Linked DNA regions of Homo sapiens. The protein of the gene in region 4 purifies or fractionates together with the protein of the main gene of each other region. This does not show direct contact. Each region holds a gene or a part of one and is shown on either strand. Other genes may lie near its edges.

Evidence for each region.
Region 1: the proteins of KATNA1 (region 4) and USP47 purify together in Homo sapiens (affinity purification with western blotting; one study listed by BioGRID). This does not show direct contact.
Region 2: the proteins of KATNA1 (region 4) and RPUSD2 fractionate together in Homo sapiens (co-fractionation; one large-scale study listed by BioGRID). This does not show direct contact.
Region 3: the proteins of KATNA1 (region 4) and SOAT1 purify together in Homo sapiens (affinity purification with mass spectrometry; one large-scale study listed by BioGRID and IntAct). This does not show direct contact.
Region 5: the proteins of KATNA1 (region 4) and SPTBN1 purify together in Homo sapiens (affinity purification with mass spectrometry; one large-scale study listed by BioGRID and IntAct). This does not show direct contact.
Region 6: the proteins of KATNA1 (region 4) and RTEL1 purify together in Homo sapiens (affinity purification with mass spectrometry; one large-scale study listed by BioGRID and IntAct). This does not show direct contact.
Region 7: the proteins of KATNA1 (region 4) and AKR7A2 purify together in Homo sapiens (affinity purification with mass spectrometry; one large-scale study listed by BioGRID and IntAct). This does not show direct contact.

Annotation. Positions count from the first base shown.
Region 1 is NC_000011.10:11,935,747-11,940,250, forward strand, and holds part of USP47 (ubiquitin carboxyl-terminal hydrolase 47), read left to right. Parts: intron 1-556; coding exon 557-764; intron 765-2,510; coding exon 2,511-2,626; intron 2,627-4,504. UniProt on the Homo sapiens protein: Ubiquitin-specific protease that specifically deubiquitinates monoubiquitinated DNA polymerase beta (POLB), stabilizing POLB thereby playing a role in base-excision repair (BER). Acts as a regulator of cell growth and genome integrity.
Region 2 is NC_000015.10:40,571,672-40,575,826, reverse strand, and holds the end of RPUSD2 (pseudouridylate synthase RPUSD2), read right to left. Parts: coding exon 3,927-4,155; intron 2,301-3,926; coding exon 1,566-2,300; 3' UTR 878-1,565; downstream 1-877. UniProt on the Homo sapiens protein: Pseudouridine synthase that catalyzes pseudouridylation of mRNAs.
Region 3 is NC_000001.11:179,338,355-179,342,858, forward strand, and holds part of SOAT1 (sterol O-acyltransferase 1), read left to right. Parts: intron 1-1,083; coding exon 1,084-1,191; intron 1,192-2,673; coding exon 2,674-2,956; intron 2,957-3,655; exon of another isoform or gene 3,656-3,759; coding exon 3,760-3,838; intron 3,839-4,504.
Region 4 is NC_000006.12:149,631,715-149,636,218, reverse strand, and holds part of KATNA1 (katanin p60 ATPase-containing subunit A1), read left to right. Parts: intron 1-3,302; coding exon 3,303-3,460; intron 3,461-4,504. UniProt on the Homo sapiens protein: Catalytic subunit of a complex which severs microtubules in an ATP-dependent manner. Microtubule severing may promote rapid reorganization of cellular microtubule arrays and the release of microtubules from the centrosome following nucleation.
Region 5 is NC_000002.12:54,640,888-54,645,391, forward strand, and holds part of SPTBN1 (spectrin beta chain, non-erythrocytic 1), read left to right. Parts: intron 1-2,095; coding exon 2,096-2,242; intron 2,243-3,435; coding exon 3,436-3,699; intron 3,700-4,341; coding exon 4,342-4,504. UniProt on the Homo sapiens protein: Fodrin, which seems to be involved in secretion, interacts with calmodulin in a calcium-dependent manner and is thus candidate for the calcium-dependent movement of the cytoskeleton at the membrane.
Region 6 is NC_000020.11:63,660,873-63,665,376, forward strand, and holds part of RTEL1 (regulator of telomere elongation helicase 1), read left to right. Parts: intron 1-425; coding exon 426-624; intron 625-977; coding exon 978-1,071; intron 1,072-1,601; coding exon of another isoform or gene 1,602-1,673; coding exon 1,674-1,755; intron 1,756-1,956; coding exon 1,957-2,017; intron 2,018-4,504. UniProt on the Homo sapiens protein: A probable ATP-dependent DNA helicase implicated in telomere-length regulation, DNA repair and the maintenance of genomic stability. Acts as an anti-recombinase to counteract toxic recombination and limit crossover during meiosis.
Region 7 is NC_000001.11:19,303,079-19,306,922, reverse strand, and holds the end of AKR7A2 (aflatoxin B1 aldehyde reductase member 2), read left to right. Parts: intron 1-775; coding exon 776-905; intron 906-1,574; exon of another isoform or gene 1,575-1,712; intron 1,713-2,536; coding exon 2,537-2,698; 3' UTR 2,699-2,958; downstream 2,959-3,844. UniProt on the Homo sapiens protein: Catalyzes the NADPH-dependent reduction of succinic semialdehyde to gamma-hydroxybutyrate. May have an important role in producing the neuromodulator gamma-hydroxybutyrate (GHB). Has broad substrate specificity.

The DNA.
Region 1 (4,504 bases), on a different chromosome or scaffold from region 4:
TATGATAGAAATTCCTATACCATGAGCTTTAAGTATTCTGGAGGCTAATATTGAAAGGGGATATCGTAGAAGCCAAACCCTTTGTGATGGCTTTATGAGACATGCTGTCCTCCTGTACTTAGATTGTTACTAGTTACATGAATTATCAATTCTACTCCAGATTGGATTAAGAAAACAAAAGGTGCATATTCTAGTTGGCTGTTTGGTTGTTTTCCTCTGTGTTTCCAGATTAGTTGATTATGAACAATAGTTACAATACATTGATTTTGTTTCTACACCTAAAGTTTATGATGTTAACTTTTTAAAAAATAAAAAATGTATTTAGTACATGCTTTATATGATTGGAGGGATAATGAAACATAATTATTTAAAAATAACATTTAAGTTGTGCCTGTAACTTTGATGTCTTTGATGCAAATCATAAATGTGTGGATTTTGTTAGGGCCTATTGTAATGTTATTCCCCAACAGACTAAAACACTGTGTATTTATATATGTATATATATAAATATATATGTATATATATTTTTTCTTTCTGGGGGATTACTTTCTTTTAGATGATGGATTTAGAAGAGGTAATACCCCTGGATTGCTGTCGCCTTGTTAAATATGATGAGTTTCATGATTATCTAGAACGGTCATATGAAGGAGAAGAAGATACACCAATGGGGCTTCTACTAGGTGGCGTCAAGTCAACATATATGTTTGATCTGCTGTTGGAGACGAGAAAGCCTGATCAGGTTTTCCAATCTTATAAACCTGGAGGTGAGCAATTTTACACTATTTTTAGTTGTTCTGTACTTAGAATTTTCATGAGAAAGTTTTTTTTTTTATTGTAGAAATGAACATAATTTAAATTTTGTATATGGTCTTAAAATGTAGAATAATTTTGACAGGTTGAGAAGTACTCAGCAACAGCTTGGAATTAAGTTCTAGATTACTTGCAAAGAGTTGTGTACATAATTTTAAAAACAACAAAAAACAACAAAGCTTCTAGCTTACGGTCTTCAGTGGGTTTTTTCTTCTCCAGTGGGCGGTACTGAATCATTCTGGATGCTGTCAATCCCTAAAGTTATCAATTGCTCTCTTAGGAAGATCTCTCTTTCTCTTTCTTTCTCTTTATGGAGAAGACCTTGGTCCAAAAAAGTATATTCCCATAAAGTCTCAGAAGTAGAGGCTGTTTTTCAGGTCTTCTTTGGAAGGGTGGATTCATTATCCCATCACTGTCAGCATTTACAATTTTTCGTCATCCTCTCTATTTCTACAGGTCCCAGGGACTTCATCTTTTCTTTCTTCATTAAATCTATCACATTCACTCAGCACATTGAGTTTGTTATTTTTTTTTCTTTGAGACTGCTTAGGAAAACCAAAATATCATGCCCCTAGTTTTCCCAGAGACAGTTTCCCTATAGACAGTTACATGGTCTGTTTTTGTCCAGAGTTTTCTATAATTACCATATGTAAATTGTAACAAATAGAAGAAAAGCAGAATGTTTATATAATTTTACAAAATCCATACTGTTTTGTCTTGGCCCTAACTCCTTTGCATCAGTGGTTAGTGAGAATTAGGTTCTCTGTGTTTTTTCCCTAAAAGTTGAACTTACAAAACTTTATTCTGCCCTTTTACAATAATGTTCTTCTGTGGATCCTGTATATCTCCTTTTTAAATGAAGGCCTCTGTTTACAGAGTAGGTTAGATGTAGTATTCTTTCAAGGAGTCTACGGCTCTTAAGTGGGAAAATTTTATTTCTGGAAACCTTATGATGTCTACTTCGACTTCTAAGACTCTACCCTATCTATAAAGAGTCCCTTAAGGACATTTCCTTGCTTTTTTTTTTTTTTTGCTAGACAAGAAAAAGAATGATTAGGATATAACATGAGTCAGCAGTAATACCACTTATTTGAAAGAGAACTCTAAATGCAAGTGTGGATTGTAAGACTTATAAAGTAGTCTTTATTCATTAATAATCAAGATCTTAGCAGAATATTTTGTCAAATTTAGATTAACAACGTAGGGAAAAAACTGAGGATTGACATAAAACATGAGGTTAAAACAGATACAGAATAACTGTGTATTAAGTACAATGTTTGAAGATCATTTATTTTTCAAGTGATTAAGAGTTTAATTGTAAACATAACCTTCTGAAAACAGAAGAGAATGGGATTAAATTTCAATATAAAAGATTTAAGTGAGAAAACAAAGGCATAATCAGAACAGTTTTTGTGTGGAATTTTCCTTGGGATATAGGAAATATTATTTTGAGGATAAGTCTTTGATGATGAACAAGGTGGCTTAATAAGGGGTTTGTTCAAAAGCAAGCAGGAGTGCTGTGTCACCTTTAATATTTGTTTTGCAGTAACTGGTGATTTATATTTATTCAGTGTTGTTTTCATCTGTACTTGGAAGTTTGGATTTGTCACCTGTTAGAAACACATTAAGAATGCATTACTCATGTGAAATACATTAAAAAATAACCTCCAATTCTGTGTTTATGTCTTCAAATGTGACAGAAGTGATGGTGAAAGTTCATGTTGTTGATCTAAAGGCAGAATCTGTAGCTGCTCCTATAACTGTTCGTGCTTACTTAAATCAGACAGTTACAGAATTCAAACAACTGATTTCAAAGGTAAGTTTTAAAAGGGGTCTGTAAATAAATTTTTGAGAGCCTGCTATGTACAAGACACACTATGTGACAGTTATGAATAAGATACATGCTTTACCTCCAGGAGCTAATTAATATTTGTAGTTAGGAGACAACTGTAGTTAAAAGAAACAGATTGAGTAAAGTGTGGAGGTAAGAAAGTGTAAGGCAAGTACATATAACAACTTATATGTGTTGGCTGGATTATCATAAAATACAGGATTGGAAATGTAAGTACAGTTTATTTCATGAAGAGCTTTAAACAGTAAACACGAAAGTTTGGGCTCCTTTTTGGCGTAGGCAATAAGTCGAGTTTTTGTTTTCGTCATTTTTAAGTGCGGCAATGCTGCATTTAGTGTCTGGTGACACTAGACTAGCGTTCCACATGCCTTGAGGGGAGTCAGGAATGGAGAGGAGGAAGCTGTTGAAATAATTCAAGTGCAGTTGTATGACTGGAAATGAGAGAAGGCATGGATTCCAAGAGAGATAGAATCTGTAGGACTTGTAATTGTTAAATGTTGGGGTAAAGCAGATGCACCGATGACCTGAGCCAGGGGTTTCAAACTTGGGTAACCAGAAAAGTAGGGATACATTAATAGAAATAGAGGAGGAAGGTGAGGCTGTAGACTTGACAGGGAAGGTGATGAATTAAATACTGGTGCCATTATGTGAGCTAGTGATAAAGAACATAGGCTCATTCCGATTTTTTGAGCTGGAAAAATATAACAATGAAAACATTCAAATTTTGGGGGGCAAAAGGATTAGTCCACACCAGACAAATGATTATCATCCTTACAAGGGTCCTGTACTCTGCAGAACCCTGAGCATACAAACGGCAGATTTTGCAGGGTTCTTGAACCGTAGGTTAATATTCCCTGGTGTAGTGGAAATTGTTCCATAATTACAAGTTGAGTCCAGTTTTCAGTCATTCATCTTATGGTAGTCTTGTCTTTCATCTCATTATCTGGGGTTGTAAATACCTGTTTAGCAGAGTTGTAGTGAACATTAATGAAAAATAAATAAATGCTCTGAGGAAAAAAATTGTAAGGCATTATGTAAGAGTTGGTGGTTATTATGTTCTAAAAAAAAGTCTATATTTTGACTTCTGTATATGACTTCTAACAATTTTGCTAAAGTAATAACCAAGAAACAAATCATTTTGTGAAATTATATTTTATGATTAAATTGCTTGTAAATGCATACTATGTTGGTATAATATACTGTATATTACATTTTTAAAATATGAATGACAAATGTAAAAAAAATTAGTTTAATAAGCACTCACACATAATACAAAAGAAAGAGACACAGTAGTTTCTTCCCCAAGAAGTTAATAATCTTACTGAGAAAAATATGTCTATAGAGAATAAAGGCAGTCACAAAACATCATGTAAACAAATACAGTATTTTTAACCAGCCTGCTTAAGAATTAGGTATTTATAACTGATGACCTTAGTTGCATTGAAAAGAAATTGTGTTTTTTAAATGTAAAGTATTTTTATCTGCTGCTTTCATGTCAATTTATAAAATGACTCCAAAAATTAAAGATGTGGACTTTCAGAAAAACTTAAAATTTTCCCTACTAATCTTCTCATTTTACACAAAGGAAAATTGCTTATTGCTTTAATAAAAGTATTAAAAACTATTCACAGACTATAGAAAGGCCTGTCAAAAGCCAAGAAGTTCAACATTTTGATATCAGCAGTCAAAAAGTCAGTTACGCAGTTTCTTTGGAATCAGATCACTCATTTACTTGGCAAGTTTGAGAGCAATAGAGATTCTAGGAAAAAATCCTTACCTTTAAAATAGTTTCAGAGCATACATTTATAAATGGTACTTTGTTCTCCTGATTTGCAGTATAAT
Region 2 (4,155 bases), on a different chromosome or scaffold from region 4:
GGCCTATTTTCAGTTAATTTTTGTGTATGAGGTAGGGGTCTAACTTTTTTCTTTTTTATGTGAATACCCAGTTTTCCCAGCACGAACTGTTTAAGAAAAAACACATTTGTTTAAGACTATTCTCTCCCCACTGAACAGTCTTAGCACTTTTGTCAAAAACCAATTGACCTTAGATGGATGGGTTTATTTCTTGACTCTTGATTTTATTCCATCACTCTATGTCTATTCTTATACTAATGCCACAGTTTTGATTTGCATTCCCTGATAACTAATAATGTTCAGCTTTTTTTTTTTTCATATGTTAGCTGGTCATTTGTATATCTTCTTTGGAAAAATGTCTATTCCAATCCTTTGCCCATTTTTAAGTTGGGCTGTTAGTCTTTTTGCTAAGACTCTCACATCCAGAATATATAAAGAACACTTACACTCCACAACAAAAAGACTAACAACCCAGAATGAGATGCCACTTCACTCCTACTAGGATGACTATAATCAAAACAAAACAAATGTTGGTGAAGATGTAGAGAAATTGAAACCCTATGCTTGCTGGTGGCAATATAAAATGGTTCAGCTGCTGTGGAAAAGTTTGGTGGATTCTCAAACATTTAAACATAGAATTACCATATGACCCAGCAATTCCACTGTGAGGTATATACCCAAAAGAACTGAAAACATATTTAATGTTCACAGCAGCACTATCCACAATAATGAAATGGTGGAAACAACCCAAATGTCCATTAACTGATGAACAGATAGACAAATCGTGGTATATCCATACAACAGCTTATTCTGCCATAAAAAAAGAATGAAGTACCGATACATGCTACAAGTTGAATAAACCTTGAAAACATTATGCCAAGGGAAACAGAGACATAGGTCACATGTTTTATCATTCCATTTATATAAAATGTCCAGAATAAACAGGCAAATCCAAACAGACAGAAAGTAGATTAGTGGTTGCCAGAGGCTGGTGGAAGGGGAGTGGAAAGTGACCACTTACTTAATGGGTACAGGTTTCCTTTTGGGGTGATGAAAATGTTTTGGAAATATATGAGGTTATGGTTGTACAACACTGTGAATGTACTAAATGTGACTACGCTGTACATCTTAAATTGGTTAATTTTTTTTTTTTTTAAGAGACAGGGTCTCACTCTGTCACCTAGGCTCTGGAGTGCAGCAGCACAATCACAGTTCACTTTAACCTTGAACTCTTGGCCTCCAGTGATCCTTTCACTTCTACCTCCCAAAGTACTAGGATTATAGCCATGAGCCACTGTGCCTGGCTAGTTAAAGTGGTTAATTTTATGTTATGTGAATTTTACATCAGTAATAAAAAAGAAGCCGGAAGAAAACCAGACATCAAAGATGTTAGAAAAAGGGATATATTTACAAACCAAAAAGTCTCCAAATTCCCACTGGAAGGAGGTAGCAAGTATGAGCAGGTCTCTTTAGAAGCCCGTCCTCATTCCTATAGAAACCCCAAGTACTAGCCCATGGGGTCAGCCCTTGCCCTATAGCCCATCCTTGTCACAACCCAAGAAGCAATCCCTCCATTGGCCACACCCTCAGTCCTTTTGCCAGTCATCCTGTGCCCAGGCAGGCATTGGTGAAAAGTACTCAAAGCCTGGCCCTTTATAGCGTAGGGCATGTAGGAACATCACAAGGTCTTGGGGCAAGGGATCCTGTCGCACCAGCCGGCACTCTGCACAGAGTGGGTCTGTCTCTTGATTCATGACATCTGTTTCAACTGCCTTCTCTGATGCCAAGGCTATTGTGTCCAACTCCTGAGGGGCTGCCTCAGCTACTTCCTCCATCTTCTGGGCAGCTGCAGCCAACTCTTCCAGGTCGTCCTTGCCCAACTCTGAGGAGGGGGCCGTAGAGTCTGTGAGTCCTGGGGACAGGTCACCCTCACAGAGATCTAGCACATCCAGGCTCTGTTTGGCCTGGTGCTCTGCTACCAGGTCCCGTAGCAACTCCTCGTTTGTCTTGGGAATGTAGCCGCCCCGGCCTCGAGAAGGACCCCAGGCAACTGAGTTGTAGATGGGGTCGTTGAGAATGGGATGGCCCAAGAACTGAAGGTGGACTCGAATCTGGTGTGTGCGGCCTGTGAGTGGCCGGCACCGTACCACACTGGACTGGCCATTGTAGCTTAGCCTCTGGAACACTGTCTCACAGGGCTTGCCCCGGGGATCTACACGGCACACCCCTACTTTGTAAGACACCACTAAGATGGGTTCTTTACAGGTCACTTCCTCAGTGGGGAACTCCCCTTCCACCCGGCACACGTACTCCTTCTCCAGCTACATAGGAGGGAAGAGGGAGAAAGTCAGTACAAAGCCTAAATTCATGGAGTCCAAACTCTTTGTGGAGTGATAAGGACCAGTGTCAGAAAATTCAAACTCCAGCTCTACCATTCGCCAGTTTTGCGATCTTGGGTACATTACTTAACCTCTAAATCCTACTAACTCATCTAGAAAATGTGAAATTAGAAAAGCATTTACCAGCTGGGTGAGGTGGCTCACGCCTGTAATCCCAGCACTTTGGGAAGCTGAGGTGGGTGGATCACCTGAGGTCGAAAGTTCGAGACCAGCCTGACCAACATGAAGAAACCCCGTCTCTACTAAAAAATACAAAATTAGCCAGGCGTGGTGGCGCATGCCAGTCATCCCAGCTACCTGGGAGGCTGAGGCAGGATAATTGCTTGAACCCAGGAGGCGGAGGTTGCAGTGAGCCAGGATCACACCATTGCACTCCAGACTGGGCAACAAGAGCGAAACTCCATCTCAAAAAAAAAAAAAAAAAAAAAGAAAAGAAAAGAAAAGCATTTACCTCATTGGGCTGTGATAAGCATTCAGTAAGTTAGGCTCTAATGTGCTTGATACTAAGCCTGGTATATAGCATGCACTCAATAAATGTATTATGATTCAGATCCAGAATTACAAGTCTCAGGACAACAATCATTACCATTAAACTCCTCTACCCAAGACTTTTCCAACTACATCTAGAATCTTTTCACCAAGCAGGCTCTCCCCATAATCTTAAAAGCCTTGCTCAGCCTGTCAGCACTTTATTTTCTTATGTTAATTTATTTCTTTGAGACGGAGTCTTGTTCTATAGCTCAGGCTGGAACGCAGTGACATGCTCATGGCTCACTGCAGCCTCAACCTCCCATGGCCAAGTGATCCTCCTATCTCAGCCTCCCAAGTAGCTGGGACTACAGGCATGTGCCACCATGCCAGGGTAAGTTTTTTTTTTTTTTTTTGAGACAGAGTCTCACTCTGTCACCCAGGCTGGAGTGCGGTGGCGCGATTCGGCTCACTGCAAGCTCCACCTCTTGGGTTCACACCATTCTCCTGCCTCAGCCTCCCGAGTAGCTGGGACTATAGGTGCCCGCCACCACGCCCAGCTAATTTTTTGTATTTTTTTTTAGTAGAGACGGGGTTTCACCGTGTTAGCCAGGATGACCTCGATCTCCTGACCTCGTGATCTGCCCGCCTCGGCCTCCCAAAGTGTTGGGATTACAGGCGTGAGCCACTGCGCCTGGCCTTTTTTTTTTTTTTTTGTAGAGATAGGGTCTCCCTATTTTGCCCAGGCTGGTCTCTACCTCCTGGGCTCAAGCTATCCTCCCACCTCAGCCTCCCAAAATGCTGGGATTACAGGTGTGAGCCTGGCCTTGTCAGCATTTTAAAGCTTCAAAATAGCAAACTACTAAGAGAGGCAGTGTATGCCATCTCTAAAGATTTTTTTGGAAACATATGAGATATCCTGCATTTGGCACTTTAGGTGTTGACCTGCCTTAAGGTAGGAAGGTAGGAAGGATGGCCAGATAAATATGAAGGACCACTTCGGAACTCCATGATGCCCTTTTGACACAGAGCATTCGTGAGCCCAAGAAGTGGCCTGTAGGAGACAAAAGCCTGACTCACCTGCCGGTCCCGAACCTGCTCGTGAATTCTCTCAGAGACTGCAGCTGTCTTGGCAAACATAAGCACCCCTGAGGTAAGGCGGTCAAGCCGATGCAAGGGGTGTAGCTCCTTGAGTTGGTGCTCCTTGCCTAGGATGAAGATAACTGTGTTGTGTCGGAAGCGGCCACAGGGGTGAACGGGAATGGAGGAAGGCTTGTCTACAACCACCACATCTTCGTTCTCAGCTAGC
Region 3 (4,504 bases), on a different chromosome or scaffold from region 4:
CTCCAGCCTGAGCACCAGGTGCAACACCCAGCAACTCCAGCCTGGGTGACAGAGCAAGGCTGTCTCAATAAAAAAAAGTGTACTTTTCTTTAAAAAGACATCTTATGCTTATCAAAAGTTACTTTCTGTGAGTCAAGTTGATGTTTACTACTTCCCCTAGATAAGAAGGCCGGTTTTCTAAGCATGTAATGTGCTGTTCAGTGTTTTCTAAGCATGTAATGTATAGTGTTAAGTGTTCTGTTACACTGTAGTTTGAAGGAATTAATCTTTTAAAGTTTACATCTGGGGGAAAACGCAGGCTTTTCACATAAAAGGGAAAAGAAAATTTATTTTAAACATTATAATTAGGATTTTAATGATAGAATTTATACATGAAAAATAAACAAAATTACATATTAAAAAAATTTTTAACCAAGGAAACAAAACATGTTTTCTATGGCTTAGATGAGTTTTTATTAGACTGTGAAGATCCTTGGTCCAGAGATTGAGTAGTAGTATATTAGATTACTCAAAATCATTTAAAAGATTAGCATTATCTTTCCAAAAACAAGTTAAAACAAGTTTAAAAACCTGTTTTAGTCAGATATAAAAGATTATTTAGGAAAAGTCATCTATATTATTGTTATATTCTAAAAGAAAATTAGACCAGTCTTAAATACAAAAGTCAATGAGAAGGTAAAATCTTTGTAAATGGTTGAGTTTTATAGACGTGTAGGGTAGTAATTGGTTATCATCATCATCATGATCAACATTATAGAAACTCATGTCAATTTTAACATTTTGGAAATAGGTAGTACTTAATATATATTAAATTTAGGGAGTAGAATATGAATAGGATTAAAAAATTCTTAACATTTGAAATAGTTTGTTTCCTGTTTTTAGTGACTGGCCTTTGTTTACTTAGAAAACATCCATTTCTGGTAGGTTTTAAAGAATGTAGACCATTCTTTTTTGAGATGTTTTTGGAGAGTGGATTAAGCATCTTCTCAACTGCTTTAAGTTAACTGCTTTAAGAAAAGATTTTATGGTGTTTTAAATTTAAATATACATTATTAACTTGTTTTGTTTGAACTACATTTACAGTGAACTGCTTGAAGTGGACCACATCAGAACAATATATCACATGTTTATTGCCCTCCTCATTCTCTTTATCCTCAGCACACTTGTAGTAGATTACATTGATGAAGGAAGGTAAGACAACAAAAAAGATGGCTGGCTAGTTGATGCATGAGAAGTTAGAGGTTTTCACTAAATTTTGGTAAAGGGTAAATTGATTAAATTGCTTCAGGAAATCCTAAAGCAGCAGATTTGAGGGTGATATTCCTTTGCCCTGAAAAGTTTAACTGATGGAGAAAATTAGAAGTTTCATTACTTTTATTTTTAAAATGGTTTATTTGAATAGACCATAATCAGTAATTTCTAGGTAATTTTCCCAAATGGGAGAACTTTATACACAGTTGACCTACGAACAGCACGGGTTTGAACTGTGCATGTCTATTTATACACAGAATTTTTTCAATCAATGTGTTTAGCACTCTGTATCCATGGGTTCTACATCTGCAAGCAAAGGCTGATTGGGATCTAGAGTATTCCAGGATGCAAAACACACATATAAGAATGGCAGATTTTTCATATCTGTGGGTTCCACGGGGCCAACTGTGGGCCTCGAATTTGCATAAGTTTTGGTGTCTGCACAGTTTCCTGGAACCAACCCCCCATGTATAGGGAGGGATAACTGTATATGACTTATTAACTTTTTGATTGTCTTTATTTAAGATGGTTACTTAAAACAAGTAGCTTATTGGAATTGAAGGTTGAAAAAGTTGATATTTCTTTTTAATGTGAAAGTCAAATTATAGGCCAGGCATGGTTGCTTGTGCCTGTAATCTCAGCACTTTGGGAGGCCGAGGCGGGAGGATCACTTGAGCTTAGGAGTTGGAGACCAGCCTGGGCAACATCTCTACAAAAAATTTAAAAATTAGCTGGGCGTGGTGGCAGACACTTGTAGTTCCAGCTACTCAGGAGGCTGAGATAGGAGGATCGCTTGAGCCAGGGAGGTTGAGGCTGCAGTGGAGCTGTGTTTGTGCCACTGCACTCCAGCCTGGATGCAAAGGAGACCAGATCTCAAAATAAAATTTTAAAACTCAAATTGTAGCTTAAAAAATGACAGCGTGGTAATCATGGATTGAATTATGTACTTTTTTTGAAAATTAAGTTTGGAGATAATGGTATAGTATATTAACATATTTTTAAATTGTACCTATTTCTTCTGAAAAATCATCTTTTGTACATAAGAACGATTGCTGTTTGAATATTTTCCATAGAATATTTTACAGTTAGAAAATTAATGTGAGAATCTAATCTTTCAGAAGTTCAAAGTCCAATTATCTTAGATATCTTAAGTTTGAAGACTGTATTTATCTTAGGGCTTTTAGAAAATTTGTTTCTAAAGAACATATATTGTTGATATATATATATATATATATATTGTAAAGCAGATGGTTAGAAGCAGATCTCTAACTAGCAGAACTATTACATCCATGACTTCAGCGTATTAACGTTGTGGTGTTTCCTAAGGTTGAAAGTTTGGTGTTTGAAACTTTTAAATTCTGTGAACTCAGTGTATATTAAAAATTCACCTCTATGTTCTTTTTCTGTACCTTTTCTCCCCAGGCTGGTGCTTGAGTTCAGCCTCCTGTCTTATGCTTTTGGCAAATTTCCTACCGTTGTTTGGACCTGGTGGATCATGTTCCTGTCTACATTTTCAGTTCCCTATTTTCTGTTTCAACATTGGGCCACTGGCTATAGCAAGAGTTCTCATCCGCTGATCCGTTCTCTCTTCCATGGCTTTCTTTTCATGATCTTCCAGATTGGAGTTCTAGGTTTTGGACCAACATATGTTGTGTTAGCATATACACTGCCACCAGCTTCCCGGTTCATCATTATATTCGAGCAGGTAAGGTTTTAAGTGTTACCCAAGGCGATGCTGTCCTCGGCTAAAATAATAATAATGATGATGACATACTGATACTATTATTTTTAGCTGTATTAACTTGGATAAATTTTCATATATTGTTCTTTTGCCATTATCTGTAAAATTGTTAAACTAGAATCATCTCACCTCTTAAGTTTCATTGTAGCTTCCATGTTCTCTGAATTTTGATAAATAAATTACGTTGAACTTTTTTTTTTTTTTTTGAGACAGAGTCTCGCTCTGTCACCTAGGCTGGAGTGCAGTGGCACCATCTCGGCTCACTGCAACCCCTGCCTCCCAGGTTCAAGTGATTCTTCTGCCTCAGCCTCCCAAGTGGCTGGGACTGCAGGCGCCTGCCACCACACCCGGCTAATTTTTGTATTTTTAGTAGAGATGGGGTTTCACCATATTGGCTAGACTGGTCTCAAACTCCTGACCTTACGATCCGCCTGCCTCGGCCTCCCAAAGTGCTGAGATTACAGGCGTAAGCCACCGCGCCCGGCCACATTGAATTATTTTTGATGCATCAAGATTTTGTTTCTGAATACTTTTTGTAAAAGTCATTTAAATTATAAAATATTTTCATAATTAAAAACTTCACTTTTGAAATGTCAGATTCATTGTTTTGTCATGTAACTATATAATAAAGGTTTTATTTTAATTTGTTTATACACTTATCAGGATTTTCTGACTTTACTGGCTATCTATAATGCATTTGACTAATGGAAAGGACACTTGCAGGAGACTTTCTTTGAAGAGACATCTTTTTCCTCCTGCTTTTGTAGATTCGTTTTGTAATGAAGGCCCACTCATTTGTCAGAGAGAACGTGCCTCGGGTACTAAATTCAGCTAAGGAGAAATCAAGTATGTAATTTCTTTTGTTCATTATTTCTTCCTCCCCTCCCCTCCTCTCCCCCCACCCCATTCCCTTCCCTTCCCTTCCCTTCTTTCCTTCTTTCCTTCCCTCCCTCCCTCTCTCTTTTTCTCTTTCTCTTTCTCTCTCTCTCTCTTTTTCTTTTCTTTTCTTTGTGTAATTTCATTAGTTTAAAGGATTATTGGCTGGATATTTCACCCTTTGTTGTTTTCTGGGATGTCACATTATATAATGTAGAGATTGTGTTTTATTTCAAATATATATTATCCATATTGATTTTGAGGACCACTTCATTGTTTCCTGACTATTCCGGCTTTGCCCTTGAACCTACAATTTTAAAAAATTGATTATCTTTTGCAACTTTGCATTATTTTTATGGAATGTTAATAGCCTCATTACACCTGTGCCTGCCTATTCTTTGCAAATTGTTGCTTCACACTCTAGAAGTTATCTCAGTCACAGGAATAACTTGGTTTAAAGAGATTGGTAATATTCAATTCGTGCAAGAATAAGAAGTCATTCCGGAGATCAGGAAAAAAGAACATGAGCTGATAAGTCATTTTATTCTTCCCTGTTCTGTGCTTCCTTATATTCCCCCCTGTATTTTTGCTGTGAAAAATCAAAGAGCCTTTGCTCTAACTATAGTTTTCCTTTTC
Region 4 (4,504 bases):
GCCAAAGACTTTTACTTAAGTCTAAGCTTTTGTTTAAAGGTACTTAAGATTAAATCATTTAAGTTATAAAGCAAAACATTATCATCTTAAATTTCATTTCAATATTATATATATAGTTTATTTTTATTTTTATTTTTTACCATTTTCTGGTTTGTTTTCTTTTGAGATGGATTTTCTCACTTGTTGCCCAGGCTGGAGTGCAATGGCGCGGTCTCAGCTCACTGCAACCTCCACCTCCCGGGTTCAAGTGATTCTTCTGCCTCAGACTCCCGAGTAGCTGGGATTACAGGAGCCCACCACCACACCCAGCTAATTTTTGTATTTTTAGTAGAGACGGGGTTTCACCATGTAGCCAGCTGGTCTCAAACTCCTGACCTCAGGTGATCTGCTTGCCTCGGCCTCCCAAAGTGCTGGGATTGCAGGCATGAGCCACCATGCCTGGCCTACCATTTTCTTATTGTGGTAAAATATACATAACACTTTACTGTTTTTTGTTTGTTTGTTTGTTTTGAGACGGAGTCTCACTCTGTTGCCCAGGCTGTAGTGCAGTGGCGCAGTCTCGGCTCATTGCAACCTCTGCCTCCTGGGGTCAAGTGATTCTCCTGCCTCAGCCTCCCGAGTAGCTGGAATTACAGGTGTGTGCCACCACACCCAGATAATTTTTTTGTACTTTTAGTAGAGACGGGGTTTTTGCCATGTTGGCCAGGCTGGTCTGGAACTCCTGACCTCAGGTGATCTGCCCTCCTCAGCCTCCCAAAGTACTGAGATTACAGACGTGAGCCACTGCACTTGGCCTTGGCCATTTTTAAGTATACAGTTCAGTGGCATTAAATACATATATAATGTACAACCATCACCATATATAGTTTTTAGGCTGAGTTAAGACCCATTACTATAATACAGTTGAATCAAAACTATATATAGGTTTTTGAGGGTTTTTTGGAGGCAGAGTCTCGGTCTGTTCCCCAGGCTGGAGTATGGTGGTGCAATCATGGCTCACTGCAGCCTTAACTCCTCAGGCTCAAGCAATCCTCCCACCCAGCCTCCAGAGTAGCTGGGGCCACAGGCACAAACCAACATGCCTGGCTTATATTTTTTTTAGAGATGGGTTATTGTTATGTTGCCCAAGATTAGTTTTTAAATTGCGTCAAGATTCCTTTTCTCTTTTATTTTTGAGGTGGAGCCTTACTCTCAAAACTAGGGCCATTTTACTGCATTCCAGACTGGATGACAGAATGAGACCCTGTCTCTAAAAAATATTTGAAAAAAAAAAAAAAGACTGCTTTTAAAAAAATACCTTGGTTGCATATGAATTGAGACCTATTTTAGTCTGTAGGTTGTGACCCATTAGCCATAAAATTAGTATATTCTGATCAGTGTTGTATTGATTTTTAGAAATTATTTACTGATATATAATAGTTGTACATATCTTGGGCATACACATTATATTTTGATTCCTGTATACAATATCTAATGATCAAATCAGGGTAATTGGGATTAATCAGCATTTTAAAAGTTAATTAAACAGAATAAAAATTATCAAAGTAGGGCTGGGCATGGTGGCTCACACCTGTAATCCCAGCACTTTGAGAAGCTGAGGTGAGAGGATGGCTTGAACCCAGGAGTTTGAGGTTATGGTGAGCTATGATCGTGCCACTGTAGTACAGCCTGGGCAACAGAATGAAACCTTGTCTCTAAAACATAAAAATAAAAGTTTGACAAAAATGAAACTTTCACAAGTTGTGCTTTGATGGTTTTTTTTCCCCCTTGGGCTCAAGCAATTCTCTCACCTCAGCCTCTAAAGTAGGCAGGACTACAGGCATGGGCCACCATGCCCAGCTAATTATTCTTGTAGAACTTTAAAGTTATGCCTAACTTTTCAATTTGTTATGCAATTTATTTTATTTTATTTTATTTTATTTTATTTTATTTTATTTTATTTTTTTGAGATGGAGTCTTGCTCTGTTGCCCAGGCAGGAGTGCAATGGTGCGATCTCGGCTCACTGCAACTTCCGCCTCCTGGGTTCAAGCGATTGTTGTGGCTCGGCCTCCCAAGTAGCTGAGATTCCAGGTGCCCGCCACCACACCCAGCTAATTTTTGTATTTTTAATAGAGATGGGGTTTCAACATGTTGGCCAGGCTGGTCTTGAATGCCTGACCTCAGGTGATCTGCCCTCCTTGGCCTCCCAAAGTGTTGAGATTACAGGTGTGAGCCACCGCGCCTGGCCTGTTATGCAATTTATTTATTTATTTATTTATTTGAGCCGGAGTTTCACTCTTGTTGCCCAGGCTGGAGTGCAATGGTGTGATCTCCGGCTTGCCGCAACCTCCGCCTCCCAGGTTCAAGCGATTCTCCTGCCTCAGCCTCCCGAGTAGCTGGGATTACGTGCATGTGCCACCACACCCGGCTATGCAATTTAAATAAGAATATAAATTAGTAGTATGATTTAGTTAGCCTGGATTTTTTTTTTATTTTTTATTTTTTTGAGACAGATTCTTGCTATGTTGCCCAGGCTGGAGTGCAGTGGCGTGATCTTGGCTTTCTGCAACCTCCATCTCCTGGGCTCAAGAGATTCCCCTGCCTCAGCCTCCCAGGTAGCTGGGCCTGTAGGTGCCTGCCCCCATGCCTGGCTAACTTTTTGTATTTTTAGTAGAGATGGGGTTTTTACCATGTTGGCCAGGCTTGTCTCAAACTCCTGAGCTCAAGTGATCCATCTACCTCAGCCTCCCTAAAGTGCTGGGATTACAGGCGTGGATGTTTCCTATCCTGGATGTTTTAATTCATTTTATCAGAATTAATTTTGCAATTGAGGGCCGAGCGCAGTGGCTCACGCCTGTAATCCCAGCATTTTGGGAGGCCTAGGCGGGTGGATCACGAGGTCAGGAGATCAAGACCATCCTGGCTAACATGGTGAAACCCTGTCTCTACTAAAAATACACAAAATTAGCCAGGCGTGGTGGCGGGCGCCTGTAGTCCCAGCTACTCGGGAGGCTGAGGCAGGAGAATGGCCTGAACCCAGGAAGCAGAGCTTGCAATGAGCCGAGAGTGATCACGCCACTGCACTCCAGCCTGGGCGACAGAGTGAGACTCCATCTCCAAAAAAAAAAAAAAAAAAAATTGCAATTGAAAACATAAATTTAATAAACTGTTATTAACATTTTGATAGAATATCTTGATGTGGTTTACTGGATATCTGATATCAAAATGGAGTTTTGTAACATCTCTAGTAAATGGCCCTCATTTAATTTTGACAGTGATATATTATAGAAATTTAAACATCCATCTTCTTCTTTGAAATCAGGTTTGGCAGGAAATAAATGTGGAAGCTAAACATGTTAAAGATATCATGAAAACACTAGAGAGCTTTAAACTGGACAGCACTCCCTTGAAAGCGGCACAGCATGACCTTCCAGCTTCTGAGGGAGAAGTCTGGTCCATGCCTGTACCTGTTGAACGAAGGTAAGTGGAAACCTTTTAAGAAACCAGTTATCCCAAGAAGCTTATAGCATTGATTATATTTAGGAGGAGGATGGGGTGGCTGAGAGACAGGAATGGGAGGGAGTTTTCTTTACTGAACGTTCTCTCTTTTATAACTCACTGGTCTTGAACCTTGTGCCTTTTTGACCTATTTCAAAAAATAAGATTTAGGTAGGAATAATTTAAAAATATGCTTTTGTGAATGACCTTACAGTGGTAGAGACAGTGTTATCTTGTGGAAGGAGAATGGGGTTAGGAATTGAAATATCCAAGCTCCGTGTCTGTCTTTGCCACTCTCTGTAGCTTTGGGAAAATAATAAAACCTTTTTAGGCCTCAGATTTTTCTTTTTTTTCTTTTTTTTTTTTTTAGACAGAGTCTCACTCTGTCACGAGGCTGGAGTGCAGTGGCACGATCTCGGCTCGCTGCAATCTCTGCCTCCCGGGTTCAAGTGACTTCCCTGCCTCAGCCTCCTGAGCAGCTGGGACTACAGGCACACACCACCTGTATTTTAGTAGAGACGGGGTTTCACCATGTTGGCCAGGCTGGTCTCGTTCTCCTCACCTCGTGATCCACCTGCCTCAGCCTCCCAAAGTGCTGGGATTACAGGCCTGAGCCACCGTGCCCAGCCAGGCCTCAGATTTTTCTTACGCAAAGAGAGGAAGTTAGACTAACAGTGGTTCTCAAACAGGGATCACAGAATACTTCTTTTCATCAAGCTATAATGAAAAATGGAAAATTTTTCTAAATTTGCTAAAATTGAAAAAATTGGCTTTTTAATTCATAGAGAACAGTAAAAATAAAATGTTCTGAATTTTAGGGTTTTCTCTGGCTTTTTTTCCCCAACTTCCTACTACCAAGTGCCAGCAGATGAACAACTAGTGATACTGATATTTACTGAAATACTGTAACTAGCCAATCATGCATAGTTTTACTGCACATTTTTCAACTGACAAGTGTGCAGGTGGATGTTATCTATTTCACTTACATAATAGATTTCCTAGTTTGTATTATAGATTTAAATATTG
Region 5 (4,504 bases), on a different chromosome or scaffold from region 4:
ATGAATGATTTTAAAGGTATTCCTTTTGTGTTGTATGTCCTCACATTACACCACCTATTCTCTGGAACTGATTTTTATTTTTCCAGGAAGGCAGTATATCTACATGTGTCTGGTACAGGGATGTGAGTTAGTCCTTTACTGTTAGCTTGATTCAACGATCAAAGCATTTTTTCCTTATCTTTTTCCAGTCTGCACAGTGTTCTTTTCTGCAGAGAATGAGTAAATTCTTAAATGACCTTTGTAAATGCCCACAAATAATAACTGTAGCTTTGGTTGCAGAGTGCTGATGAACTAGCAAGTTCCATAGATCCATTTCATTGTGCTGTATCGCATGATGCTTTATCTGTAGGATGATGTGTTCAGCAAAGAGCAGATTTGTTTATAAGCCTCTGATTTTTATGTAGCGCGCTCTCTCTCTCTCTCTTTTTAATCCCTCTTGGGTAAGTGGTTATGAATAGCGAAAATATGTGAATGTCCTTGGCACTTTGAATCAATAAATGCCTTCTGTTTTGTGTGTATGTACAGAATACTGGGAAAAATTTTGTCATTAAGTTTTACTTTAACTTCTTTTCCCCTAAGATTGAATAGCCATAGTCTTTCAGATTTTAGCTGCCCAGATAACTGGAACATAGATAATTTTTTCCAAGTAGGAAGTGCGTGCCTTTATTGTCTAATAGATCCATGGTCTTTGATGACAAAGGACTTTATGAGATTTGCTAGTTTTTCCCTCAACAAAGAGTGAAATCAAAAATCTCACTACCTTTTGCTTTTAACCCCCTCCCACCCCCGCCCCCTGCCCCATTCCCTGTGTGGTGAATAGCCTGAGAATAGGGACAGTGCCCAAGAGTTCACCCACTTTCAGAGCCAGAGGGCTCCTGTGACCCACGTCGCTCTCCTTGACATCATTTCCAAAAAACAAATCTCGGGGAGCCTTTCCTGGCAGCAGCCCACAGTGGGAGTGGAAGGGCCTTGGAAGTGTTAATTCTGTAAGTACTTCTACTGGTTTTATGTGTCACTTCTAGATCTTTGTTGGTAGAACCATGAAGGATTTAAGGTGCCAATTTGTTGTGACAATAACTGGTGTAAAAGTGGGCTTCTCACGGTCACTCAGGAGAAGGGACATGGTCCCTTCAGTTGGTTACTTCTGATTCCAGGCTGGCTCTGCATTCTTTTGTGTATCTTCAGCCTGGGCAAACAAAAAGCTCTTCCTAGGTTAGCAAAGCAAATGGGGCGGGAATCAGGACTCTGGCATGGCCCTTACAGGCAGGCAGTAATGAGCCAGGGCCGATTCGGGATGGAAGCCAGCAAAAGTGGGTCTGGGCCTGGCGTTTGGCTGACCCCGGTAAGAGAGCTCCTTTCTCAGGTCTGTCAGCGGCCAGCAGCCTTTGTGCGGCTCTCTAGAGTTCAGATCCAAGCAGACATGTTGGGTCTCAAAATCAAGTCCTGTGAAGTGTTCTTGGTGTGAATGAAAGGTTCTTTAGAGAACTAGAGGCTATAGAAAAAGAGGTGAAGGTGACTCAAACTTGAAGGAAACATTGAAAGGGCATGATTGTTGCCTTAGCCCTACAGTGAGCAAGTTATTTATGCCTTTTTGCATTCCCTTCGATGCACCCACAAAAAGGGGGAGGTAATAAATAAGTAGTTTTTTTTTTTTTTTTTTAATAAAAAGAACTAAGAGAGTAAGAAGGATTGCCAAATGGAGTAAAAGTCAATCATGATTAACATGGTATAGCTGACACAGGTATTTGGAAGAGAAAAAGAGTCATGTCTTGGAGTGGTTAGGGTAGAATTTTAAACACGGGCCTTTTGTGGGGAAAGCCAGTTATGAGTGCCAAACAGTTTGAAAACTGGCTTATAGAGCTTTTGTACTTCTGGAATGAATGTTAGATATAGTTTGGAGCAGAGCTCAGGTACAAGCTCCATCTAATGGACACCTGTCATGACGGGTCAGAGTTGTGAAGTTAAATATTTGGTTGTCTGTCACCATGGAAACGTGTGTAGTATGCATAATATGACATAAACACAACCCTTTCCAGGCGGAAAAAAGGCTGATGTCTAGGATCACAATCTCTGAATCCTTCTGATCTTTCTGTAGCTGTCTCTCTGGATCAATGAGAAGATGCTCACAGCCCAGGACATGTCTTACGATGAAGCCAGAAATCTGCACAGTAAATGGTTGAAGCATCAAGCATTTATGGCAGAACTTGCATCCAACAAAGAATGGCTTGACAAAATCGAGAAGGTGAGTTAAAACATTTGATGTGGCCATGGTGAGAAAACAAACAGGGTAGTAATAAACTCCTTTTTATTTAGCACATTTTCCAGCATATCTGATCTTATCTGTACATTTACGTAAGTTACACAGCCAGTAATAGCTCCCTTTGCACGTACGGGTTCCTGACTTCAACCCATCAAAAGGGAAAAAAGCAGAAACCCAACCAGTTAGTAGAAAATGCTTGATTTATCGTAGAACGAATACTAGGCATTTAGTTTCTGTTGTGCCTCTCATCTGCTGTTGCTGATGGACTGTGAGCTCTCATGCAGGGATTCCACTGTCTTGATCATATTATTTGTGTTGTACTGTGACAGATTGCACATAATTTTAAATATATACATATTTTTTAAAATTGCTTTTTCCTATGAGACTACTGTATACCAGGCGCTATAATAATTACTATGATGTGTTATTCTTGCACAGAGAGATTCTGGGCAGCATAACTGAAGATGAATATGGAGTCCCCCCCTTCCCCCCGACTTCTCTCCTTTTAGACTTTTTATAGTGTTTCAGATTCTTCACGGTTAAAATAATGTGTTGGCAGGGCACGGTGGCTCATGCCTGTAATCCCAGCACTTTGGGAGGCCAAGGCAGATGGATCACTGGAGGCCAGGAGTTTCAGACCAGCTTGGCCAACATGGTGAAACCCCATCTCTATGAAGCATACAAAAATAGCCAGGCCTGGTGGTATGTGCCTGTAATCGCAGCTATTGGGGAGGCTGAGGCACGAGCCCAGGAGGCAGAGGTTGCAGTGAGCTGAGATCACGCCACTGTACTTCAGCCTGGGTGATAGAACGAGACTCTGTCTCAATATAATAACAATAATAATAATAATAATAATAATAATAATGTGTTGTATATCATCTTTGGTCATGGAATGGAGGAGATAAAGTCACGTTATTAGCATTCAGTATTCCGTTGCCCCAGTTGAGACTATTTCAGCATGTAACATTTATTGCTTAATTCCCATGAAACCCTTGTAATGTACACAACCTAGGGGTCGTTGTTGATTTTATTGAGCAGTAACTTCATGTGGAAAGACTGTGTGTATTGAGTGAATGGTTAAATCACAGATCAAATGTCCTAGGTTTGTTTTTCACAGTGACATTTTTTCTGTAGCAAACTTGTTTATTTACAACCATGTTGGTTTTGTTTTCCAGGAAGGAATGCAGCTCATTTCAGAAAAGCCTGAGACGGAAGCTGTGGTGAAGGAGAAACTCACTGGTTTACATAAAATGTGGGAAGTCCTTGAATCCACTACCCAGACAAAGGCCCAGCGGCTCTTTGATGCAAACAAGGCCGAACTTTTCACCCAGAGCTGTGCAGATCTAGACAAATGGCTGCACGGCCTGGAGAGTCAGATTCAGTCTGATGACTATGGCAAAGACCTGACCAGTGTCAATATCCTGCTGAAAAAGCAACAGGCAAGTGGACAAGCCATCATGGACTTGGGTGTATTTCTGTTTTACAGCCATAGTCCTTAGAGTCTTTTCTCACCCACTGCATTATCAGGAGTCCACCTTCCATGGGAAGGCATTTTTAACCCAAAATATTACTTGCTCTAACAGCATCGTAGAACATTTCCAGAATAGAAAGACACTTGTCCAAACTAGAAAGACACAGTATTAGGAGTATTGGGTGTTGGCTGTCTGTGTATGGGATTGATAATTTTCTTAGTTAATGGGTATTATCACCGTTTAACAGTTAAATAAATGTTCATCTCATTCAATTCTGCATTTTACACGAAAGAAATATTCTCATACTTTGTTGTTTAACATCGTGATTTGTGACAGTTATCTGAGTTGTTCAAGGCACTTTATAGGTAATAAAAATAACTGTTTATATTATATCACCGTAGAGGGCTTTAAGGGCAAATGAATTTACCTCAGATTTACTTGAAAACAGTTCCATTGATGTTGAAAAGCAAGTCAGTGGCAAAATGTTTGAGTGGCTCCCATGGCTGGCTTTGCGGTGTGGCCAAGTCCCAGGCCCAGCAGTTCTGCTTAGAGCCAGTCACTGCAAAAGATAGTCTGTGCTGAGCGCTGAGGCTGCTTCTCTGCCCTCAGATGCTGGAGAATCAGATGGAAGTGCGGAAGAAGGAGATCGAAGAGCTCCAAAGCCAAGCCCAGGCCCTGAGTCAGGAAGGGAAGAGCACCGACGAGGTAGACAGCAAGCGCCTCACCGTGCAGACCAAGTTCATGGAGTTGCTGGAGCCCTTGAACGAGAGGA
Region 6 (4,504 bases), on a different chromosome or scaffold from region 4:
TGTACCCGGCTCACACCCTTCCCCTCCCCGAGTTTCCTGCTCAGGTTCCCGTCTGAGAGCTTGTATGTAGGACGTCAGATAGGACAGCATAAATGTTTGGATCCAGAAACGCAGAACAGTTTCCTATTTTGAGACTTGACACCTAATTAGTCATCTTACTATTTAAGCTGAAAAATAGTGTCGTGTTTTGGGTAACGTTCTGCAAATCGTTTGCTAATGGCGGCTGAGTTGCTTCACGCCCTTTAGGGCAAGAGTGGGACTTGCCTGTGGACTTCTCCGCGGTCCCACAGGGCTCTCGCCACCTGGCAGTGGCCTCTGCATCTGCAAAGAGCTGCCCGCTGGCTGCCGAAGCTTGTCTCAGGGCAGCTTGTGTGGCCTCGCCTCTTCCTGGCTTCCCCGTAACCCTTGCTCCGAACTCCGTTCAGAAGGTGAATGGCATCCTGGAGAGCCCTACGGGTACAGGGAAGACGCTGTGCCTGCTGTGCACCACGCTGGCCTGGCGAGAACACCTCCGAGACGGCATCTCTGCCCGCAAGATTGCCGAGAGGGCGCAAGGAGAGCTTTTCCCGGATCGGGCCTTGTCATCCTGGGGCAACGCTGCTGCTGCTGCTGGAGACCCCATAGGTGACCCTAGTTCCCAGGCCTCTCCTGGCCTCCTGTGGGGATGGTTGGCAAGGGATGGCGCTGAGGGTGGGGTGGGCCCATGGGGACTCCTGCCGTCTCTCAAGCAGAACTCAAGGAGAATTTTTTAGCTGCTGTATAATTTCTCGCCATCGTGGGTGTAAACCTAGGGTTGGGCTTTTTTGCTGAATTAGGGCACGGCAGATGCCCACTTCACCCATTTTTGATAAACCAGTATCTGGGGTGTCAGATTCTTGGCTGTCTGCAGGGCCGAGTTAGCCGAATGCCACCTGCCTTTGATACGTGAGAACGTTGTCTGAGAACCGTGACTTCTGTGCTTGCTTGTGTCTGGTCAGCTTGCTACACGGACATCCCAAAGATTATTTACGCCTCCAGGACCCACTCGCAACTCACACAGGTCATCAACGAGCTTCGGAACACCTCCTACCGGTGGGTCAGACGAGTTTACACCTGTCTCGGGGTCCTCAAGAGAACCAGCTTGGCATGGTGCTGAGTCCACAGCCCCATGCTGTGCTGTGGTGGAGGGTGGTGGTCTTTCTAGACGCTCCCCCGAAGTGTGCAGAGCGCTGGTGCCCAGGGGTGGGGTGCGGCCTGGGCTGCCTCCAATGCCCATTACTTGTGAGGAAGCAGCTTTGCATCTGTGTGCTGACCTTGGGCGGGCGTCCTGAGCTCCTCGCAGGTGCTGTTGTAGCAGCTGTGCAGTAGGTCAGGGCTGGCCCCCAGTGCAGCTTTGCACATGAAGTAGGAGGAGGCCCTGCTGCTTGTCAGAGCCCAGCAGAGTCTTGGTGTTCTGTCGGGTTCCTGTGGCCGGACCAGTGGCAGGGTGCTGTGGAAGCTGTCGAATCTCCTCCCTCTGTCCAGTACCCCCGCTCGTCTTCTAGCTCCCTCCTACGCCCGGGCCACGTTTCAGTTATGCTCACTTCCTCTGACCGCCGAGGCTCCTGCGTGTCTCCATACAGCTCACGCTGCAGGGCCACGCTGTGGGTGTTGGAGACAGCTCCTCCTCGACCCACGGTGCTCTCTCCCACCAGGCCTAAGGTGTGTGTGCTGGGCTCCCGGGAGCAGCTGTGCATCCATCCTGAGGTGAAGAAACAAGAGAGTAACCATCTACAGGTAGGCTCCTGGGCTCCCGCTCCGGCTCAGTGTCCGACAGGCGAGTGCTGCTGGGTGTCCAGAGCCCCAGGCTGCGCTCCCGCTGGGCTAGGGTTTGAAGTTCACTGGGGGACTGCAGGGGAGGACCTGGTGGGGGTGGGGACTGGCTTCGGTCCTTTCTTGGCCGTGCTTCAGCTGCGCACTCTGCCCTTCCTCCCACAGATCCACTTGTGCCGTAAGAAGGTGGCAAGTCGCTCCTGTCATTTCTACAACAACGTAGAAGGTACAAGCAGCTGGGTGGGACCAGGGTCGGGTTGGAGTGTGTGCAGCCTCTCAGGGTGGAGCTCAGTGGTGTCACAGCCTGGTTGTGCTTGCCCGGTGGGGCGGCCAGTGCGGCCATGTACCTGGGCCCTGTCTTCTGACTCGGGGCCACCCATGTTAGACTTCTGTGTGGAAGAGCTCACACAGTGGTCTGAGACAGCCAGCCGGCAAGACTGCCTCTGGCTGGTGCCTGGGGCCTTGGATTTTGGGAAGGCTCCCTCCATTTCCTGATGAGAGGGTCTCCCTGCACCTAACCTGCTGGTGCAAACAGTAGGGGTTTTGCTGAACACCGGCTTTCTCTTCGGGGACTTTGTTGCTTGCCCAGCAGCAGGTGCTCCAGTGACCGGCCCTCATACCATCTTGGGAGGGTGTCCTGGAAGCCGTGTCTGGCCTCCCGCGACCCTGCCCCGTGTGTCTTTTTCCTGTGCTGACCTTGCTGCGGAAAATTATGGCCCTGAGTGTGACTCCAGGCTGAGTCCTGTGGGTCCAACACGGGATGCCTTGGGGCCTCTTCTGGAGACGGGATGTGAGTGACAGGAGCCGGCCGGGGCAGCTTGCCCTGTGACTGCACGTGGCCACAGCCTGTGAGGGCCGGGGGTGCTTCTCCACCCACGTGGCTGCCCCTCGGGTATGTCAAGGGCTTCTGGGGCTCATCACGGGGTCCTAGAGACAGTGGCAGGGTGCACCCCCGTTGGCTGCCCTTACAGTTTCTGTGACCTGAGGGTGGCATCTGTGCAGTCGGCGCGGTCTGTGCTTCTGTGGGATCAGGGTTCCCTCTGTTTCCTGCCTCAGTTGGGGCTCAAGCCTCAGGTGAGGTGGCCCCGGAGCACTCAGAAGGCATCGGCGGTCCTGTGGGCTGCTTTCTGCACTCACGTTTGCTGAGTGCTCAGTGTGCCAGGACTGAGGACCCTGAAGCTGCTCTTGTATTTAGGGCGGCGCTCCCCTGGCAGAGACTGAGCCAGGTGGTCCCGCATGACCCACTACCAGGCGTTTCTGGGCCCTGGCCCTTGGAGGGACAGGGTGGGCGGAACATGGGCCTGCAGGGAGGCTCCCGCTTACTGGAGGCATGTGCTGTGTTGCTGGAGACATCCTCTGTGTTGCTTCTTGTTCGCTGTGGTTTTTGGTCTGGTGGCACCAAGGACCCTCAGTCATCTTGATGTGTGGTTGTCCAGGCCTTTTTGTTGGTCCTAAGAAGGGGCTCTGCCTTTGTGCCCCCAGGTTCCCTGACAGGAGCTGCCGGCTCGTCCCGGTGATGCCTGCAGGACGTGACTCTGGGACGGGGGGTTGGGCAGATGTGCTGATGGAAATTCTCAAGCAGGCGTCATTTCCGAGGTCCTCACCTGGATTTCCAGGACAGGAGTGCCTGCTGGGTGTCCCCAGTCCCATGCAGCGGGGGTCCTTGGGATAGCATGGAACGCTGAGCATGGGCCTGGCCGGCCGTGGTCCTGGACAAGGGCAGTGCCCCGGTGGCTGCTGGGCCTGGGACCTGGTGGGGACGCTGGGCCTGGTACCTGGTGGGGATGCTGGGCCTGGGACCTGGTGGGGAGGCCTCTGACTGCCTCCTGGTGCTGCTTCCGTCTGTGTTAGGCCTCTGGGTATTGGGGCCCCCATCTGTCTCCTCCTCCAGGCCTGTGGACTCAGACCAGGAAGACACAGGCCAGCCCCTGCCTGTCCCCCTTGGCTTGGGCTCTCACTGCCCGACCTGGCGGGAGGTTGCCTAGCCGTGAACCTTCGCACCCTGTCTGCCACCGGACAGGCTGTGAGGGGGTGTCTGCAGCACCTGCACCGGCCTGAGCATCTTCAGAGTGGGCTGCAGCTCCTGGAGGGGTCTGAGAGGAAGGGAGGCAGGTATTTTGGGCGAATGAGGAGACAGCTGGAGAGCTGGCACCCTTCCTGGCCTGCGTCCTGTGAGGACTCTGGTTGGGGACAGCAAGCTTGGGGTCAGCCTGGGGCAGAGCCTCTGGGACGGCCCCGCCCCTCGTGCCCCTTCCCCTCGCAGCTCCTGTCCTCGCCCCGCCCTCAGCTCTCCGCCAGGCAAGGTTTGGCAAGTGCCGCTGTGCGGCAGTGCCTGCTGATTGGCTGGTCTGTTGCTATGGTGCTGCCCAGGGGTGTGCTTTTCCTCCCCTGCCTTCCCTGCTATCCCTGGGAGTATCTGGGGTTGGGTCATCGCTGGTGTGTGTGAGTGTGTGTGTGTGTGTATGTGCACGTGTGCATATGTGTGCGCTTCTGGCCTCTGCAGCTGAGTCCTGGCCCTCGGGGGGCCTGGCACCTCCTGGGGACAGGCACAAAGCAGCCATGATGGAGTCGGGAGCTGGGGGAGGCCCCATTGCCCCACGTGGCTGCCCTGTGACTCTGGGGTGCTTGTTAGAAGAGGTATCTGGTTCTGTCTGTGTTTAAGCAACTCCCTAAGGAATTCTTGTGGTTCCAGTTTGGGGGGCCTGTACTGTAG
Region 7 (3,844 bases), on a different chromosome or scaffold from region 4:
GGTAAGACCTTCCTTTGCTGTTTGCATCTCCTCCCCTGCATTGCTTCAGGAATTCCCAAGCCCTCTGTGGGTTTTCTTGTTGTCTTGAGACCTCTGGGGGGGAAATGAGGATCCCTGGATGTTGGGGTCTTGAAGTCATAGCTCGTTCCTGAGCAATCACCTGCTGGGAAGCAAAAAGCGAGCCCAGGATGGGCCAGGCATGGTGGCTCACACCTGTAATCCCAGCACTTTGGGACACCGAAGTGGGAGGGTTACTTGAGCTCATGAGTTCAAGACCAGCCTGGGCAACATGGTCTCTACAAAAAAAAAATGCAAAAAAGTGGTCAGGTGTGGTGGTGCACACCTGTCTGTAGCCCAGCTACTTGGAAGGCTGAGGCAGGAGGATTACTTGAGTCTAAGAGGTTGAGGCTGCAGTGAGCCATAATGATGCCACTGCACTCCAGTGTAGGCAACAGAGTAAGACCATGTATCAAAAAGCAAAAAGAGAGCCCAGGAGGGAATCCTGCCCCATCTGAGCAGCCTTCGTGTCCCTAGGGAAGTCCCTAGGCTACTGAGTCCTCAGGAGTAAAGATCCATTGAGGTCTCTGCTGAGGGGCCCAGCATCCTGGGTGGTTCTGATGCCCAGCAAAGTGGGAGACCTATGACTAGAGAGGACACCCGCCCCTCAGGGCTGCAGGGTGTGGGGTGGGGCAGTGGTCCTGGATGGCTATTTGGTTGCGGCTCCCAGTGTGACCCCCATGGTACTGACCCCTGTGCTAACATCCCCTCTGCACAGCTTCTGGAAGGAGCACCACTTCGAGGCCATTGCGTTGGTGGAGAAGGCCCTGCAGGCCGCATATGGCGCCAGCGCCCCCAGTGTGACCTCGGCTGCCCTCCGGTGGATGTACCACCACTCACAGCTGCAGGTAACCAGCGACCCTGGGTGCTCAGCTTCTTCCCTTCCAGGGGGACCAGCGTCACCTTTAGGTGAAGCCCAAAGCATTTGATTTCTGAATTCCTCTGAAATTTTTCTTTCTTCCAATTCTCATAAGCACTCTTCCCACTGGTCTTTGATGGTATCTGAGTGGAGGCTTTGTAGTGAGGGATTTTCATTACAGGGATTTTCTTATTCCTTAGGCTTTCTGAAGTATGATTATCCCAGTGTTATTGATGAGGAAACCGAGGTTCACCCAGCTATTAAAGTGGCAGACATTTTAACACAGGTTTAACTAAGACCCACCCATCTCACCCTTTTGGTTTCTCTCTCTTGATGCCTCATGTCTTCCTGGTTAAAACTTATTTCCTGATCAGTGGCAGTGACCCACACCTGTAATCCAGCACTTTGGGAGGCCGAGATGGGAGGATTGCTTGATCTCAAGCATTTGAGTCTAGCCTGGGCAAGAAAATGGGACCCTATCTCTACAACAAATCAAAAACATTAGCCAGGTTGTGATGGCTTGCTCCTACGTTCCCAGCTACTCTGGAGGCTGGGATGGGAAGATGGCTTGAGCCTGGGAGGTCAAGGCTGCAGTGAGCTGAGATTACACCACTGCACCTTAGCCTGGGTGACAAAGCAAGACCCTGTCTAAAAAAAACAAGCAAACAACAATGAAAATAACAGCAACAAACTTATCTCCAGCTTCAGCCTTCCATGTTGCATAGTGTCTGGCATATATCCGGTAGATGTTCAGTACGTGGGAGCTGTGTTTTACATAAGTTTTCTCATTCCAATGCTGAAAACAGAGAAAAAGATTGAATGTCATGCCTGCATCGACAGCACATATACTAAAATTGGAATGATACAGAGAAGATTAGTATGGCCCCTGCGCAAGGATGACACGCAAATTTGTGAAGTGTTCCATATTTTTCCGCTGCCACCACCACACCGCACTACCTCCCACCCCCTTTTGTGTACAAAACACAAGGAAAAATATTTTTGTTTGAAAAAAAAAAAGATCGAATGTCAAAACAAGCTTAATAACGTAGCCTGCTTTTTAATTTTTTTGAGACAGAGTCTCACTCTGTTACCCAGGCGGTAGAACAGCAGCACACTCATAGCTCACTGCAACCTCAACCTCCTGGGCTCAAGTGATCCTTCTGCCTCAGCCTCCCTAGTAGCTGGGACAAGGCATGCACCATCACCCCTGGCTAATTTTGTTTTGTTGTTTTTTGTAGAGACAGAGTCTCTCTCTGTTGCCCAGGCTGGTCTTGAACACTTTGGCTCAAGTGTTCTTCCCACCTTGACCTCCCAAAGTGCTGGGATTGCAGGCATGAGCCTCTGTGCCCAGCCAACTTAGCCATTTTTACACAGCTGCTGGGGGCAGAACTGGGCTGTGAATGTAGTTCTGTGTGGAAGCGTCGTGCGGCAGTAGGGGAAAGGATGCGGGTTTCAAGTCACGTGGGTACAGCTATCCAAGGCACCTTAAGTCCTTTCTGGACATACAAGATATAAATATAAACAGAGACCCCAGATCTCAGCAGGGAGGTGGCTGGGACGGCTGTGAGTGGAGTCGCTGTGCAGCAGAAGAGGGTTGAAGTCTGGCCGTCTCCCTTGCAGGGTGCCCACGGGGACGCGGTCATCCTGGGCATGTCCAGCCTGGAGCAGCTGGAGCAGAACTTGGCAGCAACAGAGGAAGGGCCCCTGGAGCCGGCTGTCGTGGATGCCTTTAATCAAGCCTGGCATTTGGTTGCTCACGAATGTCCCAACTACTTCCGCTAGGCCCATCATGGCTCAGGCTGCCCAAGGCTTTTCTGTCACCTCTTTTGTTCTCTCACACTGACCAGTCTTGGCCTTAAGCTGACTTAGAAGGGTTTTTCTGAATTGTCTAGATCCATGCATTATTTTTCTAGCTTCCTGCCTTGCTCCCTATTCACTTTACACTGTGAAAGGTGGGGGGTGAGTCCCACTTGAGCGCTTCCTGTTGAATAAAGCAGGCACTTGACCTGGCTGTAGCCTAGGTCTTGAGTGAACCCCAAAAACTTGCTTTCTCTGCTGTTAACACTTTGTTTCCCATCCTACCTGGGGACTGAGAAAGGGCAGAACCATGGGCTGGAGTCTTCAGAGGGCAGAGGTAGTAGGAGGGTCACAGAAGCACACTGCCCTCCCAGGGTCTCCTCGGGCCCCTGGTCTGAATACCCACCTGACCTCTCAACATTGAGGTGTCTCTCACTCTTCTACACACGATAGAAAAGAGAGTCATACACCTGCAGTACATTTTCTCTAATTCAGAGTTGCCTCAATACATTCTTAGGAATGAAACAACTGGGACAAAGAAACTACCATTAGAGTCACTACCAAGAAGAAGAACACTTCCCAGGATCTGTGGAACATCTTGAAGCTCTCAATCTTAGCCTCCTCTTGTCTTAACTAAAGCCTCTTGTCTTTTCACCCATTAGGTTCTCAGTCTTGGCTCTGGGCCTCCTGTTCGGCATGGGGACAGACATAGGCAGCCAAGGTCCTCATTTCCCTTGGAAACCCCTACTCCAAACAGGAGGCACCAAGGCTGAGAATAAGAATCCTTGGTTCAGTGGTTGCTGAACCTGCTGCATTCCCAGTGCACCAAAATCCCTCCAGCCATGGGCAGGGCAGCAGGCAGCACTTGGAGCAGCTTCTTGAAGCAATGAAAGAGGCCCAACCTGGAAATTTACTTTTTCATTTATATTTATTATTTGTTCTTGAGACAGGCTCTTGCTCTGTCACCTAGACCGGAGTACAGTGGCATGATCACTGCTCACAGCAATTTTGACCTCCGGGGCTCAAGGGATCCTCCCACCTCAGCCTCCCGAGAAGTTTTTATTTTTATTTTTTTTGTGGAGTGGAGATCTCCCTATGTTGTCACCGTCTTTTCTGTTTACCCGTAACAAA